Regions from separate parts of the Homo sapiens genome. Here region 2 is linked to region 1. The links come from fine-mapping of genetic effects on plasma protein levels. A gene starts in region 1. The other region holds a variant in brackets. All regions are shown on one strand. Distances are between the middles of the regions. Region 1 holds the start of GLO1 (glyoxalase I). Region 2 overlaps GLO1 (glyoxalase I).

What was found. PIP is the posterior inclusion probability: the model's chance that the variant is causal. Protein levels are from antibody-based Olink assays in UK Biobank. Linkage for the fine-mapping came from a reference panel and not from the study's own genotypes, which makes the PIPs less certain.
Region 2: its variant is fine-mapped to the plasma level of the GLO1 protein (UK Biobank, PIP 0.97). The variant lies in the coding sequence of GLO1. If it changes the protein, the assay may bind it differently, which can mimic a change of level.

The regions. Positions count from the first base shown.
Region 1 is chr6:38,696,805-38,708,760 of GRCh38, forward strand. GLO1 (glyoxalase I) reads right to left here and starts at 6,341. Exons shown (of 6, transcript NM_006708.3): 1 at 6,167-6,341. The coding sequence starts at 6,250. RefSeq lists enhancers at 5,483-6,075, 6,108-6,157, 6,178-6,277, 6,458-6,617.
Region 2 is chr6:38,676,918-38,688,873 of GRCh38, forward strand. GLO1 (glyoxalase I) reads right to left here. Exons shown (of 6, transcript NM_006708.3): 2 at 9,975-10,057; 3 at 7,457-7,597; 4 at 5,891-5,958; 5 at 5,095-5,184; 6 at 1-466. The coding sequence ends at 378. Among named protein-coding and RNA genes, the nearest start is that of GLO1, 20 kb to the right of the region's middle. RefSeq lists a silencer at 4,311-4,523 and enhancers at 11,824-11,873, 11,924-11,956. The variant T/G (reference allele first, on the strand shown) is at 5,935.

The sequences.
Region 1 (11,956 bases):
AAATGTTGTCTTTCGACCTTAATAAGACTGAGACCAATTCCCTTTAGAGACTATCTACTTTGTCTCTCAAATAACTTTCAAAAGTGTTATATTGCCCCCAACAGAAAGCCTTCTTCTTTTTTTTTTTTTTTTGAGATGGAGTCTCACTCTGTTGCCCAGGCTGGAGTGCAATGGCACGATCTCGGCTCACTGCAACCTCTGCCTCCCAGGCTATTCTCCTGCCTCAGCCCCCTGAGTAGCTGGGATTACAGGCACGCGCCACCATGTCTGGCTAATTTTTTTGTATTTTTAGTAGACACAGGGTTTCACCATGTTGGTTAGGCTGGTCTCGAACTCCTGACCTCATGATCCACCCACCTTGGTCTCCCAAAGTGCTGGGATTACAGACGTGAGCCACCGGGCCTGGCCCAGAAAGTCTTCTTAAGGCTCAACTAAACATCCAGACTTATAAGACAACCATAGCCATAGGCCATACATGGTGCCAGTTTACTCAAAACGGTATCTGTTAGGAAAACACAGATTGCCAACAAAGAAGTATCAGGTGTTCCTCTTCAGTGGGAGTCCTTACAGGAGTCGACACAGATCAGGTACAGGGAGAAGATTCACACTGGATATGAATGAGAATCACCCTAGGGCAGAAGGCCCCATGTACCACAGGAGCCAGTATCTCTAGTAGCAACTCCATAGGCAGAACTTCTAGAATTTCCACAAGGGACAGTTATAAGAGTCACTACAATCAGGGAAGTCCAAAGCTATGGCTTCCTTTCAAGTATTTACAATTCTCCCTCTCCAGATGCAATTTACCAATTGGGTTATTTTTACCATAAGCAACAAACACAATTTTTCATTGTTTTCTGGGAAACTAGGGAGTTAACGAAAAGTCAAATTTTCATAAAAGGGGAAAGGGTTTGTTAACTCTTTATTACTAGGTGTCACATCTCCCACAAAACAAAAGTGAACAAAGTGGTTTTCACCAGACTTTTAAAAATGAGCTTTTCAACTGCCTTCAGTGTATCTTGAGGAAAGCAAGAAGTCCTCACTACTTCCTGCCTAGACAATTATCTCTTTGCTTTTCATAGGCTTATCTACATGCAATTTGGAGTGATCTTTCCATAAAGAAAACCCTGTCATGTCATTTTTGGCTTAAAAATCAATACTTCAGTGGTTCCTCAACACATTTGAGAGACAGTCCCAAAAGCAACCACATATGTAGCTGCATACTTCTCTAACACCAACGGTTATCACCACTCCCCTAAACCGGTCATCTCAAACATTTTCTATTTCATACCCTTATCACTTAAATAGCAACCATTACAGGGTGAGAAAAACAAATGAATATAATGGGAATTCTCATCTTTTCTTTGAGTACCCTAATGATTGTTTTGGTCACCCTTCCCTCAAGTCCCACTGCTTATAACTTCATTCACTGTGTTACCCGTAGGTCCCTGCCTCAGTTCTCTGATGTCATTATGCCTTTATATATATTATGATTCTCTATGCCTTGAATAGTCAGCCATTTATCTGGCCATTGTCCTTCTTCCTTCCTCCTTTCCATTCCCTATTCTCCTTTCTACTGCATTCAATTCCACCAATCTACCTGATTGGAGAGGGACCCCATCATATATATATATATTCATATATTTATAGATATATTTATATATTAATATATATTAATTTTTTATATTTTTATATATTCATATATTTATATATGGAACGATGTGAAAATGGACATTGGCAGTGGTGGTAGAAATAATGGCAACACTGAGGACATTGTCTACTGTATTAGTGGAGACAGATACAGATAGTAAAAAAGAAAAGATCTCCAGATCACTACTTGGAAGGAGAACCTGACCTTTTTTTTTTTTTTTTTTTTGAGACGGAGTCTCTCTCTGTTGCCAGGAGAATCTGACCTTTTAAAGAAAGTTAGCCCAGAGAGATTGCCCAAAATGTGACATAGCCATACATTCTCTGGACTTCCTTTATAATGAAGATGCAAATGATCAAAAAACAAGTCGACTTTGTGCCATTGCTGCTGTCTTCTTTACAAACGAGACCCTCATATCACTTATCTCACCTTCTGGAAGAGCTTTTTAAGTGGCCTAATCACCTCCAGACTTGGATCCCTCCAATCTACTTTATAGAATACTTCAAAACCCTGACTCATTCCCCACTATGTATATAAAATCTAACTTCCTTAGATGTGACACTCAAAGCTGTCTCCACAATCTGGCCCCAACCTACCATGTTAGCCTCTTCCACCACTGCTTAGATAACCTGAACTGCAACCAATAACATTTAACTAACTCTCCAGTACCTGCCCTGCATTGCAATTCTACCATCCTAAAACTGTTGTGGGAAGTCAGGGACCCCGAATGGAGGGACCAGCTGGAGCTGTGGCAGAGGAACATAAATTGTGAAGATTTCATTTTAATATGGACATTTATCAGTTCCCAAATAATACTTTTATAATTTCTTATGCCTGTCTTTAATCTCTTAATCCTGTTATCTTCGTAAGCTGAGGATGTACATCACCTCAGGACCACTGAGATAATTGTGTTAACTGTACAAATTGATTGTAAAACTGTGTTTGAACAATATGAAATCGGCGCACCTTGAAAAACAACAGAAAAACAGCGATTTTAGGGAACAAGGGAAGACAACCATAAGGTCTGACTGCCTGAGGGGTCGGACAAAAAGAGCCATATTTTTCTTCTTGCAGAGAGCCTATAAACGGACGTGCAAGTAGGAGAGATATTGCTAAATTATTTTCCTAGCAAGGAATATTAATATTAATACCCTGGGAAAGGAACGCATTCCTGGGGGGAGGTCTATAAACGCCCGCTCTGGGAATGTCTGTCTTATGAGGTTGAGATAAGGACTGAGATACGCCCTCGTCTCCTGCAGTACCCTCAGGCTTACTAGGGTGGGGAAAAAACTTCACCCTAGTAAATTTGTGGTCAGACCGCTTCTCTGCTCTCGAACCCTGTTTTCTGTTGTTTAAGATGTTTATCAAGACAATACGTGCACTGCTGAACATAGACCCTTATCAGTAGTTCTGCTTTTGCCCTTTGCCTTGTGATCTTTGTTGGACCCTTATCAGTAGTTCTGCTTTTGCCCTTTGCCTTGTGATCTTTGTTAGACCCTTATTAGTAGTTCTGCTTTTTGCCCTTTGAAGCATGTGATCTTTGTACCTACTCCCTGTTCTTACACCCCCTCCCCTTTTGAAACCCTTAATAAAAACTTGCTGGTCTAAGACTCAGGTGGGCATCACAGTCCTACTGATATGTGATGTCACCCCCCGGCAGCCCAGCTGTAAAATTCCTCTCTTTGTACTCTTTATTTCTCAGCTGGCCAATACTTATGGAAAATAGAAAGAACCTACGTTGAAATATTGGGGTGGGTTCCCCCCGTATCAAAACACATTTTTGCTAAGATGTTTCCTTCATCAGAATGCCTTCCCATGTACTCTGCTGGAATCCTACCCAATCTATCAAGGCATAGGCCCATCACCACCATCTTTTTGATGTGTGCCCTGATCCCCACAGCTGAAATACAACCTTGAATTGTATCACTCTTCATAGTTTAGAGAACATAATACATGTCATTTTATCCTCATAGCAGCTCTCTGAGATATCTTTATGCTCCTTCTACAAACTGAGCCCAAGTGCCCTGGCAAGGTCACTGCAGCCAACAACAGAAGTGGGGATTCAAATGCAGGTCTTCAGGCTCCAAATACCCTGTGCATACCCCATTCCACTAATGCTACCTTTAAAAACCTCTACCTCCCAGGGTGCTCTCAGGGTGATTTATATTTCAATAGCACACTAACCCCAGGTCCATTGTATATTAGAGTTGATATAAGTTGGTGAAGGGAGGGAACCTCATCTTGTTTATCCCAGTATCCCCAAAGTACTTACCATCTTCTTTACATATAGCATAAATGTATCAAGTGATCAAACTGAATTTAATTCATTGAGGGTTTTTTTTTTTTTTTGGACAAAGTCTCACTCTGTCACCCAAGCTGGAATGCAGTGGCATGATCTCGGCTCCCTGCAACCTCCACCTCATGGGTTCAAGTGATTTTCCTGCCTCAGCCTCCCAAGTAGCTGGGATTACAGGTGCCCGCCACCATGCCCAGCTAATTTTTGTATTTTTAGTAGAGCAGAGTTTTGCCATGTTGGCCAGGCTGGTCTCGAACTGCTAACCTCAGGTGATCTGCCCACCTCGCTCTCCCAAAGTGCTGGGATTACAGGCATGAGCCACTGCACCCAGCCTTCATTGAGGTTTTTTATTTTCCTTTATGGCAAATTCCAAAATTACTGCTGGAGTCAGCACCCCAGAAGCAGAACAGGGTGGAGGTTGGAAGTGTGGGGTCCTCCCTGGGCAAATCACTCAACACCTCTATGTGCCTGAGTGTCCTTATTTGTAAAATGAAGATCATAATTATGCCTTCTTCATAGGGTTGTTGTTAGGATTAAATTAAACAATGTACTTAAAATACCAAGCCAGGGCCTGGCACACTCAATATATACCAGCTATTATTATGTATTCCATTTTATGTCTCCCATGGCCAAAAATTACTGATCTCAAAATTAATTACTCCGAATCATCAAGAGAAATTTAGATACTGTGGAATGTAAATTAAGCTGCAAGGACATTTACTTAGTATATTTTATAAAGATATCCCTGGAATCCTTTTTATTTGAAAACCCCATTACATAAAACCCCTAGTTATCTGGGAAAATACTTTACACTGAGTGACTCAATTTACATTATATGAAAAAACCAGGTATTAATATTAAGGGATATACAAGTGAGATGGGCATGACGGAATTTTTTTACCTTCCCCCTTAATTTTGCAATGACTAACATTTTTCCTAAGCCAAGTACCAGGTGCTAGTCAAAAGTTTTAGCAATGAGATGTGTCTGACTCTTTGCCCTGAAGGTAAAGAACAAGCAGGGACCAGAGTCATGGACCACTTATCTACCCCTTTTAAAGGTCTGCACGAAGCACATATTCAATCTTCAAGGAATTTACAAATGATGTAGTCAAATAAATAAATACAAAGGTGTTTACAGACACTGATGACTTCACTGGAATAAACAGCGGTTACTGTGCCTGAATTTTTTTTTTTTTTTTTTTTTAGACAGAGTCTCACTCTGTCGCCCAGGCTGGAGTGCAGTGGCACGATCTCAGCTCACTGCAAGCTCCGCCTCCCGGGTTCATGCCATTCTCCTGCCTCAGCCTCCCGAGTAGCTGGGACTACAGGCACCCGCCACCACGCCCAGCTCATTTTTTTGTATTTTTAGTAGAGACGGGGTTTCACCGTGTTAGGATGGTCTCTACCTCTTGACCTCGTGATCCGCCCGCCTTGGCCTCCCAAAGTGCTGGGATTACAGGCGTGAGCCACCGCGCCCGCCAACTGTGTCTGATCTTAACAAGGCAACCGAAACACCACACCTGAGTGAGTTACACTGATTCTTACCCAGTAAAGACATGTTCGGTAAGTGAAAGCCTTTGTATGCAACAGGTCATTTCTCTTACTGGGTCATTACTGTAAAACGAGAGGGTAAGAGAAGGAATTTCTAAGATTCCTTTCAGATCCAAACTCTATGATTCTGTAATCTCTCCTGGGCCCCACGAAGATGAGGAAGGCAAGAAGGGCTGTTGTGACCCACAGCAAAGGCCAAGCAAGCAAAAGTGAAATTCTGGGCGCGGTTAAACTTAGAGCGATCAAATTAGTTTGCAGGAGTTAAGACTGCAGTCAGGGTGGTAAGGAAAAACGAGGCTGGGCAGGACTGGTACAGGACAGGCATCTTTGAACCTATTTCTGGGAGTTCTGAAACTACTGTTCTCGTGGGCCTTGGCGACTGATTTGGGAAAGCTGACCCTGGGTTGGCCTGGCTTCCAGCCACCGTCGCAACATAAACAAGCCAATTCAAAACAGGGTCGCAGTCTTTGAAACTAGCTGAGGCAACAGATCCCCTCCACACTTCGCGGGCCCCACGATCGCCCCATCAAACACCATTATCCCTCTTCCCATCACACTCCCGTCCGCCCGAGGCCGGCGGACCTGCAGCGGCGGCGGGATGGGGTTGGATAGAATGCGGCCCGGTCCCGGCCCAGCGGAGCTGGGGGAGCCGTTCCCTTCGGTCCTGTGCCCACCTTGGTACTGGGGTCCGCGTCGGAGCAGCAACTGAGGGCGGCCTCGTCCGTGAGGCCGCCGGACGGGGGCTGCGGTTCTGCCATGGCTGCGCTGCAGTATCACAGACGACGGGACCCAAGGAACGGAGGAGTCACCCACACTACGCCTCGGCCCTGTGCCGCCTTAACTAGGAATGGCGCGATGGCGCCGCGGGCGGGAGACCGCTGACTTCCAGCCAATCGCTGCGCGGAGAGCAAGTTGACTCTCTGCTGATTGGGTCCCAGTGAGTCAGCGCCTCCACCCACAGGACTATGCCTCAGACTACAACTCCCAAGGAGCCTTGCGCATAAAGGAGGCAAACTCATACAAAAAAAAAAAAAAAAATGCAGGCTGGGCAGAGTGGTTTCTCTGTTACTTAATGAGCTAATTTTGTTTGTTTAACTAAAGTTTGGTAACCATTCATACCTCAGGGCTGCAATTTGGTAGAAAATTGGAATCTGATGGAAACTGAAAACTGTAAGTTGTTCTTTTAAAATTGTAAGGATTCAGAGGTTTCTCAGTTTACGCAGCGCAGAGTAATTAAAACAATTGTTGAGTCGAAAACCTATGTTCAAGTCTTGGTTCCGCTATATATTAGCGCTAGAAACTTGCAATAATTACTGACCCTCTCTGAGCTTCCTAACAGGATTTGTTGAGAATTAAATAAGTTTTCTTTTCCTTTTTCTTTTTTCTTTTCTTTCTTTCTTTCTTTTTTTTTTTTTTTTAATTTTTTTAACAGTGTCTCGCTCTGTCGCCCAGGCTGGAGTGCAGTGGTGTGCTCTCAGCTTACTGCAGTCACTGCTGCCTCGACTTCCGGGGCTCTAGCTGTCCTCTGGCCTCAGCCTCCCGATTAGCTGAGACTACAGGCTGCAAAACCAAGACCAGTTAATTTTTGTATTTTTTTGAGATGGGGGTTTCACCATGTTGCCCAGGCTGGTCTCAACTCCTGGGCTGAAGTGACCCTCCCGCCTCAGCCTCCCAAAGTGCTGGGATTACAGGTGTAGCCACTGTGCCCAGCCTAAATGAGATTTAAGTCATGGTTTGCCTACTTAGGTTCCAAATGTCCATAACTTGCAGTACTTTTTACATTAATATATATTTTGTGTTCACTGGAAGGCTTAGTCATCACTGTGTCTTCAATGATTGGCTCATAATAGTAGATGCTCATTAAATACTTCCTGTTGTTAAAAGAATAAATGGGAATGACTGGTGCTCACCTAACCAAAATGAGGTTGGGCAGGGATGTATATGGCACTAGCCACCTGGCCACCACCAAGATGTCCCCGTCTCTCATCTCAGCTTTTTTCTGCATCGCAGCTTCAGTTTGTCAGACACCAGCTCCATAAGACTAGAAATTTGGCAGCTGTTCTCTCACTAGGAGTGGGAGTAAACTCTCCCTCTGGATTTTATCCAGCCAGCCTGGATTTTATCAAATTGGAAAATCCAAGAAGGAGCTGTGATTGGCCTGGCCTAGGACCTGTGCTTACTCCTGTGATTGAAGCACTGCGATTGGCAACCTGGATTAGGACCACCTGATTGGAGTTTGGGGAGGATCTGTTAGTTCCCTAAAAGAAGAGCGATGATGTTCTTATGAGAAGGGAGGATTGCCAGGCAAACTGAACCATGGATGTCCACTGCAAAATGATAGGCAGGATAAGGATTTCAGCAGAAATGTTGTGCATACCTCATACTAACTTACTGAGGATATTTCATCAAAACACAGTCTATTAGAACTGCAGGACTTCTATATGGAACTAGACCTTAAACCTTTTAAACTCGGGAATTGGAGCAATACACAAACTCTCCATATACTGTGTGTTACCACTGAATTATTGAAAAGACCCCCAAATTGTCTTCTTTTGCATTAATTTTCTTTTTTAGATGGAGTCTTCCTCTGTCGCCCAGGCTGGAATGCAGTGGTGTGATCTTGGCTCACTGCAACCTCCACCTCCTGGGTTCAAGCGATTCTCCTGCCTGAGCCTCCCAAGTAGCTGGGATTACAGGCACCTGCCACCATGCTGGCTAATTTTTGTATTTTTAGTAGAGACACGGTTTCACCATGTTGGCCAGGCTGGTCTCAAACTCCTGACCTCAGGTGATCCGCCCACCTCGGCCTCCCAAAGTGCTGGGATTACAGGCATGAGCCACTGTTCCCAGCCCTTTTGCACTAATCTTTCTGGTGAGCTTCTCAGACTATGTGAGATATAAAGCATGTAAATGAATAGGAAGACTCAATATCATAAAATATCAATTCATTTACTAATTAATCTGTTCATGTAATGAAATTCCAATAAAAATCCCAACAGAGTCCTTTCTTTCTTTCTTTCTTTCTTTCTTTCTTTCTTTCTTTCTTTCTTTCTTTCTTTCTTTCTTCTTTCTTTATTTGTTTCTTTCTTTATTTCTTTCTTTCTTTCTTCTTTCTTTCTTTTCTTTCTTCTTTCTTTCTTTCAAGATAGGGTCTCACTCTGTTGCCCAGTGTGGAGTGCAGTGGTGCTGTCTCAGCTCACTGCAGCCTCAACCTCTCAGGCTCCAGCAATCCACCCACCCACCCACCTCAGCCTCACAAATAGCTAAGACTATAGGCATGCACCACCAAAACCAGATAATTTATTTTATTTTAGTTTTTGTAGAGACAGCATCTCACTATGTTGCCCAGGCTGGTCTTGAACTCCTGAGCTCAAGTGATCCTCGCACTTTGGCCTCCCCAAAGTGTGATTACAGGTATGAACCACTGTGCCTGGCCCAGGGGTTTTCAATTAAAATGAACAAGCAGATTCTACATTCTATTTTTAGGGCCCCAAATAGGAAAGATATACTGAATAATAATTAAGTAGGGGAACATTCTCTACCGGATAACAAGACTTTGTACAAGCTACAGTAATTAAGACAGGATGAAAAAAAAAAAAAAGACAGTATGGTAGGGAGGCTGGCATAGATCAACAAATGGAAACTGTAGTAGACCACTCTAAGATAACCCCAATGATCCCCACCTCCGGGTCTTCACAGTCTTGTCTGCTTCCCTAACCTTGAGTATGGGCTGGATTTGGTGGCTCACTTCTGATACAAAGAGCATGATAGACATGATAAAGTGTCACTTCATGTCATTTCTGAGATTAGAGAATGAAATGTTGTGATTCTTATCTTGGGAGCTCTGTCACTTTCTTTGATCTCTCACTTGGAGGGTAAGCAAGTTGTCACGTTGTGAGCAACTCTAAGGAGAGATGCATGTGGCAAGGAACCAATGTCTCTGGTCAACAGCCAGTGAAGGCCAGACACCTGCCATCAGCTACACAGTAAAATTGCAAGTGGGTCCTTTTTCAGTAGAGCTTCAAAATGACTGCTGCTTTGGCCAACCTCTTAGTCACTGTCTTGTGAGAGACCCTGATCCAGAACTACCTAGCTGGACCATTCCCAGATTCTTAAACCACAGAAACTGTGAGATAATAAATGTTTATTGTTTTCAGCTGCTAAGTTTTGGAATAAGTTGTTGTGCATTAATAGGCAACCAATATACACACATACCATGTTTGTGTCTCTGTGTGTGTGTATATATATATAAATTTGGTATGTGTTATCTTACTGCTAGTGGGGAAAAGATTATTTTTTCAATGAATGGGGTAAGGACAATTGATTATGTATGTGATAAAAAAAGATCTCTATTTCATACCATAAAGGAAAACGTAAGTCCAAGAGGATTATAGACATAAATGTGAAAAGGCAAAACTTAAAACCTTGAAGAATAAAATATTAGAAAATGCCTTTGTGAATTCATGGTAGAAATTTCTTAATGAAGGCTGGGCGCGGTGGCTCACTAGCACTTTGGAAGGCTGAGACAGGTGGATTGCCTGAGTTCAGGAGTTTGAGACCAGCCTGGGCAACACAGTGAAACCTCGTCTCTGCTAAAATTCAAAAAATTAGCCAGGCGTGGTGGCGTGTGCTTGTAGTCCCAGCTACTCGGGAGGCTGAGGCAGGAGAATTGTTTGAACCTGGGAGGCAGGGGTTGCAGTGAGCCGAGATCGTGCCACTGCACTCCAGCCTGGGTGACAGAGCAAGACTCCATCTCCAAAAAAAAAGAAAGAAAGAAAGAAAGAAGTTTCTTAATGAGATATAAAAGCACGAAGTATAAAAGAAAGCTAAAACACACCCTAAAAGGTAAAAAGTTAAACCATAGACCAGGAGAAAGTATGGGCAACACACATAGCCAACAAAGGTTCAGTATCCAGAATATGTAAAAACTGTTAGAAATCAATGAGAAAGAGACACATAACTCGATAGAAAAAAATGGCCAAAAAGAAGAATAGGCAATTTACAAAAGAGAGAATAGAAATAGCATATATTCATATGAAAAATTGCTCCAAGTCTGCCCTACGTAGTGAAACCCCACCTCTACTAAAAGTACAAAAATTAGCCAGGTGTGGTGGCACATGCCTGTAATCCCAGCTACTTAGGAGGCTAAGGTAGGAGAATCACTTGAACCTGGGAGGTGGAGGTTGCAGTGAGGTGAGATCACGTTACTTGGGCGACAGAATGAGACCCTGTCTCAAAAAAAGGAAAGAAAGGAAAGGAAGGGAGGAAAGAAAGGAAAGGAAGGGAGGAAAGAAAGGAAAGGAAGGGAGGAAAGAAAGAAAGAGGAAGGAAGGAAGGAGGGAGGGAGGGAAGGAAGGAAGGAAGAAAGAGAGAGAGAAAGAAAGAAAGGAAGAAAGAAAGAAAGAAGGAAAGAAAGAAAGAAAGAAAGAAAGAAAGAAAGAAAGAAAGAAAGAAAGAAAGAGAGAGAGTCCGGGAGTGGGGGCTCACGCCTGTAATCCCAGCAGTTTGGGAGGCTGAGGCAGGAGGATCACGAGGTCGGGAGTTTGAGACCAGCCTGACCAACATGGTGAAACCCCGTCTGTACTAAAAATACAAAAATTAACCAGGTGTGGTGGCATGTGCCTGTAATCCCAACTACTTAGGAGGCTGAGGCAGGAGAATCACTTGAACCCGGGAGGCAGAGGTTGCAGTGAGCTGAGATCACGCCACTGCACTCCAGCCTGGGTGACAGAGTGAGACTCTGTCTCAAAAAAAGTAAAAGAAAAAAAAATTGCTCCAATTTTCTGGTAAATAGGTAAATGCAATTTAATATAGAAATGAGTTTTCTTTTATGCTCTTGAGATTGACAGAAATTAAAAAATTAAAAACCTGTCAATATCAAGTGTTGGTGTGGATGTAGAACAGCTGAAATGCATAAACACTTGCTGGTGGACACACTTTGGAAAGTAATTTGGCAGTATCTAATGAAGTTGAAGAGAGTACATCCTGGGATCCACTGCTAAGTATATATCCTAGAGGGTTATTGTGTCTGCACTCCATGAGACATATATAACAGACATGGTTTGAATGGCAAAAAAAATAAAAGAAGAAAAAAGGATAAAGCCTTAATGTCCAACCGTAGGAAAATAGATAGATTGTGTTATTTTCATTGAGTGGACTACTATACATAAGTAAAAATGAATGAACCAGAGCTACTATTCCAACAGGGATAAATCTCATAATAGAAATGAAAAAAATTACAAGTTGCAGAAGAATACACATAGCACAATACCATTTTTGCAAAGCTTAAAAATATGCAGAATGACATAACGTATTGCCTAGGACTAAATACACATCTAGTAATGGTACAGGAAGTGCCTGGGAATAAACAAATTCAGGAACATGATTTCCTCTAAGGGGCAGCAGAGGAAGACATAGGGGAGGGATATACTGTGGATTTCACTGTGTTGACAATGTTTTATAAC
Region 2 (11,956 bases), 20 kb before region 1:
AACCCCAGAAGATAACTACAACAAAAACATGTTAATTTTTTTTTAAAAATGATGATTCAAAGGCAGATTTGAAGGGAAGTAATATTTAGGTGGCAGAAGAAGGCAAATGCAGCCTCTGAAGGGAACTGTTCTAATTATTACCTAAAAAATAAAGTTACACAACTATATTCAAGGACATGAGATAAAGCACTGCTTGAAAACCAGAATGACTGAACAGTTAGGTGAAAAGGAACAGCTGAAATAGGAAGGGGAAATGGACTGAAGAATAATTTGAATCGGGACAGTGATCCATCAGTCCTAGATGCTTCTGGTATGTAAATATCTTGAATCACATTGTTTCCTTTCTTCTGAAATCTCAAAGGAGAATTCTCACAGCACTACATTAAGGTTGCCATTTTGTTAGGATTCAAAATTTCAATCCAGTAGCCATCAGGATCTTGAATAAATGCCAGGCCTTTCATTTTACCTGTAAAATGAAAATTTTCATTATTGAAAAGACTAAAAAAGAAAACACCATAAAAATGTTTTTCTTTCTTTGAGACAAGGTCTTGCTCTGAATGTCAGGCTGGAGTGCATGGGATGATCATGGCCCAAGGCAGGCTTGACCTCCTGAGCTCAGCCTGCCAAGTAGCTGGGGCGACAGGCACGCACCACCTTGCCTGGCTAATTTTTTGATTTTGTAGAGGCGGGATCTCAATGTACTGCCCAGGCTGCTATCAAACTCCTGGCCTCAAGCAATCCTCCTGCCTTGCCTCCCAAAGTGGTGGGATTACAAGCACAAACCACTGCACCTGGCCTTAAAAACTTTTATTAATTAAAGATTTACTTTGCATTTTAATGAAGTACATTATTTTGTTTACAGTTTTAAATTTTAAAAATTCTTATTGTCAGAAAAGTATGAAAAGTCATACTTTTCATAATGACTAAAATGTTATCTTGCACACATTGCAAATACCAGCCCTCCTGAAATAAACTGTGGGACTGGCTGCATCTTTTAGGTATCAGGCATTTGCCTCACCTTCATGATACCACACTACCAGTTCAGTAGTTACAGAAATTGTCTTATTTTAAAGAAGAAAAAGAAAATAGGGAGGTGCTGAAGGGAGCTGGTAGCATGGCTTACCCCCACAACCAAAAGACCCAGATGCTTGGGTCATACAAACCCTTTTAAATACTATCCTAGGCAACCCAAGCTCTGCGAGAGTCTTTCTCCCAGGAATTCAAAACTGAGATTGAGAGTCTAGTATGTCAGAGCTGTTTGCTTAAATGGAAAAATATGACCTCAGAAATTTATTTGGGGACCATTATGTTGAATTGGTTTGACTCTTATCTCTGCCTCCTTTCTCCAAGATCAATCCTAGAGGAACATAGATGGAAAATGCAGGAAAAAGAAAGAAAGAGAGAAAGAGAAAGAGAAAGAGAAAGAGAGAAAGAGAGAAGGAAGGAAGGAGGGAGGGAGAGAGAGGAAGGAAGGAAGGAAGGAAAAGAAAAGGAAAAGAAAAGAAAAGAAAAGAAAAGGAAAGAAAGAAAGAAACCCGGCTGGTGACAGCTGGGGAGAATGGGTGAGGATGGGGCCGGGTGACTGTTTTAACTTGGGCTGTGTGGGAGGTGGTAGTTCTGGCCTGGACCAGAAGGCAGTGCATAATGGCTGCGAGAGAACAGAGTTTTGCTCTTGCTCCTCCCTCACTGCTGTGTGCATCGGCACCTGCCCTCTCGCTTGTTCAGATGTCCTTACCAGTAAACAAGGGCAGTGCAGGAGCCTTGTGCTTGTGAGAAACTGAGAAAAACTGGTAGGGCCGAATGATCTCCCCAGCCCTCTCTCCACGCCCAGGGCTAGGGAATAACACTATCGGAAGTGTCTCCTACTAATACTCTTCCCTGAGGGATGAAGTGGGAAGATCCAACCTGAAGAGGTGTTTTGTGGAAGGTGAAATAAATTTAAGTCTCATTTCTAGGTGCCTAGGAATCTCTGGCCTAGGCTTATCCAGCCCATTGTCCTGAGATCATGTGGGTTGTTAAGGACAGGGATCTGGCCATTCTCCTATTCACACTGCTTGATGTGTTAGAATAGCGAACAGTTGCAGGGGAAAAAAGCTCAGAGGCAAAAAATAATAATTTGAGAAACATAACCATAAAACACCCCCAAAGCAATGGACTGTAGATTCAAACAGAAGAAATATTAGAATAATGGACCAAGAGCTATTTTTGTTTTTTTTCTGGAGACAGGGTCTTGCTCTGTCGTTTATACTGAAATGAAGTACAGTGGATCATAGCTCACTGCAGCCTCCAACTCCTGGGCCCAAGCAATCCTCCCACCTCAGCCTCCCGAGTAGCTAGGCATACAGACTACAGGCATGTGCCACCATGCCCAGATAATTTAAAAAAAAACCTTTTTGTAGAAACAAGGTCTTCCTATGTCACCCAGGCTGGAATGCAATGGCACAATCATAGCTCACTGCAGCCTTGAACTGCTGGCCTCAAGTGATCCTCCCGAACCTCCCAATCCTCTGCCTCGGCCTCCCAAAGTGCTGCAATTACAGGCATGAGCCACCATGCCCAGACCCAAGGACTATTTAGACATGTAAAAGTAATGACCGGCCGGGTGTGGTGGTTCACATCTGTAATCCCAATACTTTGGGAGGCTGAGGCAGAAGGATCACTTGAGGCCAGGAGTTTGAGACCAGCCTGAGATACATAGTAAGACCCTGTCTCTACAAAAAATAAAAAATTAGCCATACATGGTGGCATTTGCCTGTAGTCCCAGCTACTCAGGAGGCTGAGGTGGATTATTGTTTGATCCCAGGAGTTTGAGGTTGCAGTGAGCTATGATCACACCACTGCACTCTAGCCTGGGCAACAGAGCAAGACTCTGTCTCAAAAAAAAAAAAAAGTAATAAACAATATGAAATATTACCAATATGAAAAAAAGAACAAGAACATATTAAGCAAACTAAGCGAAAATTAGAGATCAAAATTATAACAGGTGTTTAAGAACAAAATAGATGAATTAAATATCAGAACAGATACATTTGGGAGAAAATTAGCTAATTGGTATTCCAGTTTGAGGAAATCTCCCAGAATGCAGGCAGTGACAAAGAAATAATATAAAAAGCTTCTAGAATAAAACAGAAGAATATACAAAGGAACATGAATTGACAGATTTTTCAACAGCAACATCATATGCAAAAAGAAAATAGAAGAGTATTTTCAAGACTGAAGGAAATTAAACCTAGGCTTTTCCATAAAACTGTCCTTCAGACATAAAGGCATCATCCTCAGTTACACAGAATCTCAAAAGTTTTGCCTTAAAAACCCTTTAAAGGGCTGGGTGCGGTGGCTCATAGCTGTAATCCCAGCACTTTGGGAGGCTGAGGCAGGCGGATCACCTGAGGTTGGGATTTTGAGACCAGCCTGACCAACATGGAGAAACCCCGTCTCTACTAAAAATACAAAATTAGCCAGGCACGGTGGTGCATGCCTGTAATCCCAGCTACTCGGGAGGCTGAGGCAAGAGAATCACTTGAACCCAGGAGGCAGAGGTTGCGGTGAGCCAAGACCGTGCCATTGCACTCCAACCTGGGCAACAAGAGCGAAACTCCGTCTCAAAAAACAAAAACAAAACCCCTTTAAAGACCATTTTGGTTGAGGTATTTAAATAAAAGAACAGAAAAATCCAAAAGATGCTAAAAAGGCTGGGCATAGTGGCTCACGCCTGTAATCCCAGTGCTTTGGGAGGCCAAGGTGAAAGAATCGCTTGAGCTCAGGAGTTTGAGACAAACCTGGGCAACATAGCAGGAACTCATCTCTACAAAAAAATAAAACAATTAGCTGGGTGTGGTGGCATGTGCCTGTGGTCCTAGCTACTTAGGAGGAGGCTGAGGCAGAGGATTGTTTGAGCCCAGGAGTTTCAAGGCTATAGTGAGCTATGACAGTGCCATTGCAGCACCCCAGCCTGGATGAGAGTGAGATCCTGTCTCAAAGGAGACACTACAAGAGATATATGAAGAAAAAGTGATCAAACACCGTGATATATTTATTATTATCTTTAAAAAATAAAATCAATACTATCCCACTCTAGGTAATAGTGACACAATGAGGACAGAGTGAAGCAAATTCCTTTCTTATTGGGGAGAAGATTTGGATATTAAATATATATATATTTTTGTGACGGAGTCTCACTCTGTCGCCCAGGCTGGAGTGCAGTGGTGCGATCTTGGCTCACTGCAACCTCCACCTCCCAGGTTCAAGCAATTCTCCTGCCTCAGCCTCCTGAGTAGGCGGACTATAGGCGCCCACCACCATGCCTGGCTAATTTTTTCTATTTTTGGTAGAGACAGGGTTTCACCATGTTAGCCCAGATGGTCTGGATCTCCTGACCTCGTGATCCGCCCGCCTTGGCCTCCCAAAGTGTTGGGATGACAGGTGTGAGCCACCACGCCCAGCACTGGATATTAAGTATTTTAATTTTTTTAAAAAAGGATTGAAATTAAACAGTGAAATATTTCAAATGTTTAGATTGAGACTCTGAAATATTTAATATTTCAATTTTAATTTGAAATAGTTCAGAAAGAGATCTAAGTAAAATAATAACAATACATGTAAACCCAGCAAAATCCATACGTAGGCTATTTCAAAAAACCTACCTAAAACTTAAGGACATACAAAGGTTATAAAAGATGAAAAAGAAATACCATGTGATTATAAACTAAAGAGAGCTGGTGTCATTATATGAGCATCAGATAAAATGGACTTTAAGGAACTTATTTTTGGGCGGAAAGATATACACTGAAATAGTGAAAGCTGGTGGCCAATGAAAGAAAGTGGTGGGGTCGGGCAGTGGGAGAGGAAGCGTAGGGTTTTGATGGCTGTCCAGGTCCTGTGTCTAGTGCCTTGGAAAGCCACCCTAGTTGCTGTCTTTCAGTTCCCTAAAATACCCAGATATTCTTCCAATCATTTCTCTTTTTTAAAACTCTGGTTGAAGTGGAGACTTCTGTTACTTGTAGCCAAAAGGGTTTTACTACAACAGTGGCCTCTGTAGGTGGTTAGTAAATATCAACTAAAGACAGGCCTGAACACAGTAAGTAGTAGACTCACCATCATCAGGTTTCTTCACAAATTTGACTCCCAGTTCTTCAAACCTTTTACAAGCACTGTATACATCAGGAACAGCAATTCCAATATGACCTTACGTGATACCCCCCGAAAAAAGCAGAGAGAAGGAAGAAATAATTATAACAGGGTGTCCAAGTACCACAAGTAGATTCCAAAACTTGTTTATTTCAAAACATAAGGCACTTGGGAACAGACTTAGGTAGGTTCAAAATCTATAATACATTAAAGAACAAATATAGATCTAATGGGCTGGGTATAAGTAGTTAATTAGTTGCCTTGAATTATAAATTATTTAAAATTAATCAATATCAGCTCATATACAGTCTAATCAGTTAAGAATAATCGACACCAAAAAACAGTAATCATTTACTAATACTTAATAGGTTTGTGGTTGGCATTGACTATAGCAGCCAGCTGAAGCCTGCAATACTGTCATCTTGATTGAGAGACTGGAGATCAAGGCAGAAGTGTATGTGCTAGCAGAAACTGGGATTAGTATTAACTACAGCTTTTTTAAAAAAAAAAGTCTACTGGAAATTAATTCTGAGACTTAAAAGTAAATCATGGTGAGATGGTAAGTGTAATTTTAGATCGAGACTCTGAAATTAAACAACTCCTAAATAAGATTATTTGTGGAAAATAAAAATAATCATATCTCTAATAAATTGATCATACTTAATTAGGACATTAATGTTTTAGGTTTATTAAAATCATAATTATATACATAATACAAAATCACACAAATCTACATATATCACATAAAAACAGGCAAACTTACCGAATCCTCGAGGGTCTGAATTGCCATTGTGGTAACTCTGGGTC[T/G]CATCATCTTCAGTGCCCCAATTGCTACAAAAGGAAGGAAAACATAGCTACAATGTCCTAGGGAATAGATATTCTGAAAAGCAAGTAACATCTTTGAAATCTTACCACGTTTATATGCTACTTTACATAATTGGCCTAACCCCTGCTACAAAAATATTAAGTTTTCAACTATAGAAAGGACAAATGGCCAAAGTATGATTTTAACGAGACTAAAGAGACAGTAAATACAGGTACTGGACAAGAACAATAATAAGAATAATAATAATGCTCATTTATTGTGCTAAGTACTTTATATTTCATTTAAACCCTTAAAACAGCTCCATGGGCTAGGTGTGAACATCTCCATTCTATTGATGAAACTGCCACTTACTTGTTTAGAGTCACAGACTCATATCTAAGCCTGCCTGATTCCAAAGCTTTATTTTGAATCAAGGGACACACGAAATCACACACTCTGAAATCAATCTCTTTTAAAGTATGCAGATAAACAATGTAAAGAAATTGCCTACATTTTTAAGTGCTCAAGTTATAAAAATACCAAATTTGAATGTTAATTATTACAAAATGGTTTGAAGAATTTTTAAAGGAACACATGATATCACATTTCTGGATCCAAAATGTAGCAAAATAATAAAAGAACAAAATTTTGGATGCTGAAAGACTAATTATAGTACCTAAAAATTAGTTAGAGACAAACAGGCAAATATCTTACAATTTCAGGGTCTTATATTCTCTTATCTAAAAGACAAATGGAGGCCGGGCGTGGTGGGTCACGCCTGTAATCCCAGCACTTTGGGCGGCCGAGGCAGACAGATCACGAGGTCAGGAGATCGAGACCATCCTGGCTAACATGGTGAAACCCCGTCTCTACAAAAAATACAAAAAATTAGCTGGGCGTAGTGGCGGGCGCCTGTAGTCCCAGCTACTTGGGAGGCTGAGGCAGGAGAATGGAGTGAATCCGGGAGGCAGAGCTTGCAGTGAGCCGAGATCGCGCCACTGCACTCCAGCCTGGGCAACAGAGCAAGACTCTGTCTCAAAAAATAAATAAATAAATAAATAAAAATAAAAGACAAATGGGCCAGGCGTGGTGGCTCATGCTTATAATCCCAGCAGTCTGGGAGGCCGAGGCGGGCGGATCACTTGAGGCCAGGAGTTTGAGACCAGCCTGGGCAACATAGTGAGACCTTGCCTCTATGCCTCTACCAAAAACAAACAAACAAAAACTAGCTGGGTGTGGTGGCACACATGTGTAGTCCAAGGTGCTCAGGAGGCTGAGGCAGGAAGACTACCTAGAAGTTAGAGGCTTCAGAGAGCCTGTCTCTAAAAAAAACACATCTCATTTGCCCAAGAACAATACAAAGATCAAAAGATGCATGAAAAACACTTCAATATATTATTAAAAATGTGAAGTCATAGGCAGATCTGGTTTGAATTATACTGGTCAGTAAACAAAACAAAAAAGATTTTTAAAAACTACCTTAAAAAATCTATAATATATATAAATATAGAAACTCATACTCACTGTGTCAGCTCAAGTGTAGCTTTTCTGGAGAGCGCCCAGGCTATTTTTTCATCTTTTTCTTTAGGGATGTCATTTTTATCCTCATAAGCCAAGAAGTAGAGTGAAAACTTCATAATGGGAAAATCACATTTTTGGATTAGCCTGCAATGAAAAAACAACAAGCCTGAATCATTAACAACAGGAAAGGCTAATTCATACTATAATCAACATAACTTAATATTCAAGTTTTACTAAAAAGAAGAGCTATATGTAGTAAGCCTATTTTAATGGAATAAGCAGGAGGAAAAATCAGTGAAAAAATATCATGAAAAATGCATCTGTAAATATTTGAAATACAAAAATGAAAACTTCTGTAATTCATCAATTCTGTAAATATAGTAACATTTAGCTGAAATTATGGTACTTGTTAATAAATAGAAACGGCTATCTCCAAAAGAGAACTGTGTTTATTTGTACTGAAAAATATAAAGAACCTTGTTGCTATTTCATATATATACACACATACAAACACATATATAAATATGTCATTCAGTTAAATAAACACATTTATTGAGTTCTTACTATGCCAAAACATCTAGGAAAGGAAATTAAGGATAGGTGGTAAGAAAGAAGGAGGAAGGACAGACTAGTATCACAGAAGACGTGAATGTCAACAGTAAGGTGGCTAACAGTATCAGATACTGTAGAAAGGTCAAACAGTATTAAGACTAAGAAAAGGTCATGAGATATGGAAAGGTCCCATGAGAGCAATGTCAGCAGAGTGGGGAAGCATCAGCTGGATTACACTGTACTGGGGAGAGAGAATGGCAGGTGAGCAGGTAAAACAGTAGCAAGCATGGCAGTGACAATGGGGAGGTAGGCGAAGGAGCAGAGGGCAAGAAATATTCTGGAACAAAGAAGACTTACGCTTCTCTGAGGGGAAAGAGACAGTAGAAGAGACTGATGGGAGAGAGAGTGAATGAATTATGAATCCTGAGGTTTTAAGAAAGATAACTGAAGTCCTGAACCTTAAATGACTTTAAATGGTATAGGATTATTTGGCAAGGAGTAAGGTGGCATGAGAATGCATATATGATTTTCTTTAGATTATTCAAAGATGACTTTGTTCATAATCAATAAGAGCAAATGGCTGTTATTGCCATATAGCAAATGGAAAGTTTCTAGAGTTCTGCTTCCAATCTTTTATTTCATTATCACTGCTATATAATAGACCTTGGCCCACTTAGATCCTTGCATTGACTTATCACAAATAAGATTTACTCTAACATGTTTATAATAAAGTATCAAACACCTCAAATACTCCAATCATGAAAAACAATCTCTGCACCTACTAAAGCAGACTACACAACCCTCATGGACCAATCAGTTGGGACTGAAGGAAATGAAACTGTTGCAACTTGCTTTTCTCAGCTGTTCAAATCTTCCAGCTTACTGTCAACTTGTACCCTATTTGGGGGCTCTGCACAGGAAGTCTACATTAGAGCCCATCAGACAATGGATACAGGTTCCAGCCCTGCCATATGCCAACTGTGGGATTTGGAGCTAGTAACTTCATCTCATTAAGCTTTGGTTTCTCCGTCTGTGAAATGGGGATAAAAGCTACCTCCTAAGACTGGTGTGAAGACTGAACAAAATAACATTTGAAGTGCCTGGCAAAAGTGTTCAATAAATCTGTTTTCATTTTGTCCTTTAAATATGTCATAAATATATTCATAATACCTTTTTCTAGAAAAAAATCACAAGAAACTGGACAGCAGTTATCTCTGGGGAGAAGAACTTGGGGAGGGAAGCTATTACTTTTCATTTTGTATTTTTCTGAACTGGTCAAATTTTCTAAATATAGACATATATTACTTAAATTTTTCTCTCAATGTGAATGGAAGTTATCTAGGCACTAAATTTAAAGATTATTTTATTATTCATGTATCTATATGCTCAAAAGCAAAATGCTCACATAACTTAGGGAAACAAATCAACAATATGACAAAATTATTTCTCAATATACCTCAGTAAAGCTGGAGAAAAAAAGAAAAATAAACATGCTTTAGAAAAATAAGTATGCTTTAGGATTGCAAGATCAGTGGATATGACCTGTTGAGCAAAAGAAAACACAGCCTAGAAAAATAGAACAGATGGTCAGTTTTAAGTAAACCCATTGGTTTTCTGAGTAGTAAGTTCTTATTATCTATAACTTTTCTGAAGTAAACAAGAGGCTAAAAGTGGCCAGAACATCAAAAGGGGTCTGAACACATTAAGGATTTAGCTGGGAGCGCTCAGAGAAGGCAGACTGGAGAAAATGCAACTATTTGTGTCTTGTTTTGCCCTTTCAGGCTGGCTGGGATAGAGAAGAAAAAGAACTTACGAGAGAAGCCCTGTCCAGCCAGGCCTAATCACAGACTCCTGGCCAAAAGAACTTCTGTTACTTCTGAAACAAACTTTAAGATGGGTCTGAAAACACTCTCTAGATTTGCAAAGCTATATATTTAAACATTAAGGTGCCAATAAGTACTTGACTTACGTCATTCCAAGAACTCTAGTATAAAAATCCAGTGACTTCTTAGGATCCTTCACTCGTAGCATGGTCTGCTGCAATAGAAAATCCTATGGAAAAATATTTATATTAAACATCTTTCACTTTTACCATTTATTACCAACATTAATTGTGCTTTCTGTAACAAGATACAAACACAATTGTTAACCTACCACCTACAACTTGCAAGGGCTCTCTGCTCAGTGGTATCTTCTGGTTGCAGGCCCCTGTGTGATGCAAGTCCAAAGTGTCAGAAAGTTTCCACTGCAGGAATGACCTTCAACCAATGGTCGATAAAAAACCTGGCATCCCTGTCCCTTGGTGGGACAATTCAGAGGCAGGTACCACAAAGTCCCTCAAAGAATCCCCAGCAGGATTGAACCTCAGTTGCCCACAGTGGTAATCCACTCGTATACACCTATGATCACCCTCTCTCCCTAACTCTGCAGAGCTCTCTGTGACCACTTCTCAAAAACTTAAAACCACACCATTCTCTCTAGTCTGCTTTGGGGCTACCCAAACTAAGACACTGATTTTACACATAAAGAGGTTGATCACTACAATATTTGTTGAATGAAGGCATAAATGCCCTTCTAGAACCATTTACTGGTGACCACGCAAATTAGCAAAGAGTTACTCACAAGATCCTAGACTCCTAAATAACTAAAAGGGTAAAAAGTTACTGTTGCTAACACCTTTGGGAAATTCAACTTACTTATCAGGAAACAGAAGGCTTGACTGAGAAAAGGGTAGAAGGTATGTAAATTCATGGAGTTAAGATTATTAATAGCATTAATAATTCTACTTAGGACTTAACTAGGTGTAATAACTCTATATGGTATTACTGTCGATATTCATACCCCATGTTGTAGATGAGAAGCTGACACTGAGTAATTAACTGTTTAAGGCCTCTAAGTTTTGGTCTCCCTTTACCATTGGTATGTACCTTCCAGACCATAAGTCTGTGAACCTCACTGGTGCTTCCTAACAGATTTTTTTTTTTTTTCTGTTAAACCCATGGCTTGACAAAACAGGCCTGAAAATTCTGACCACTTACTTTGGAGCCACATGCCATCTTTCTCCTATATAACTCACATCATATAAAATACAAATATAGTTCATTCAGCCTCATTAGGAAATTATATTTTTCTCTTTTGCTAAATTTTAAGTAAATGAAACATACTCTTTTAGGCATTAAAATTCTCATTTAAAACAAAACTAGCCTAAAAACTACTTTATCTTATTAAAACTGATCTTAATAAATATAATAATTAAATTCTTTATTCGCAGCTTATAATCACATGCCAGGCAGGTTACATGTTTCTAGAACATTTGGGTTGCTTTTCTCAGTCAGATGCTACAGTCCTAAAGGTCTCGATTTTATCAAGCAGCTGAGAAAGAGAAAAGTAGCTCTGCACATCCAAGTGCTGGCCTGGTACTCACAGCTGGGCCTTGGTTTTCTCCTGTTGAACATATATAAAGTCACTCTGTGGCTGCCATGATGTGATACCAAAATAAAAAAAAAAAATTTAAAGCAGCAAGACCATGTCCACTTCATATTCCGGTCTAAGTATACATTAAAACAAGGCACTATGAACACTACCAAAATAACAAACATCCTTCTTTCCCAGCTAATATGAGTGGTAGCTGCTTCTCTATTGATTACAATGTTTGCTTGAGGAAGCCACCTGCAGGACAAAGTCTTATGTATGATCTGTCAGGCCCGACCACACACAATCACACAGACTTTAGCTGGCAGGCCTCATGGGGGAGATCTGTCCTCCCAGCACTGGTTCTCAGTCTCAGGAGGGAGCACTGCAGTCCCTGGAGGGAGGTGCAAGCAAGGACTAAATTCTAAAGATGTCCTTCCTTATTCTCTCAAACACTAACCTAGGTGCTGCTGTGAGAGACTCTGAGAGGAAATTAAGGTCACTCATCAGTGGACTTTAAAATGGGATTAGCCTGGATTA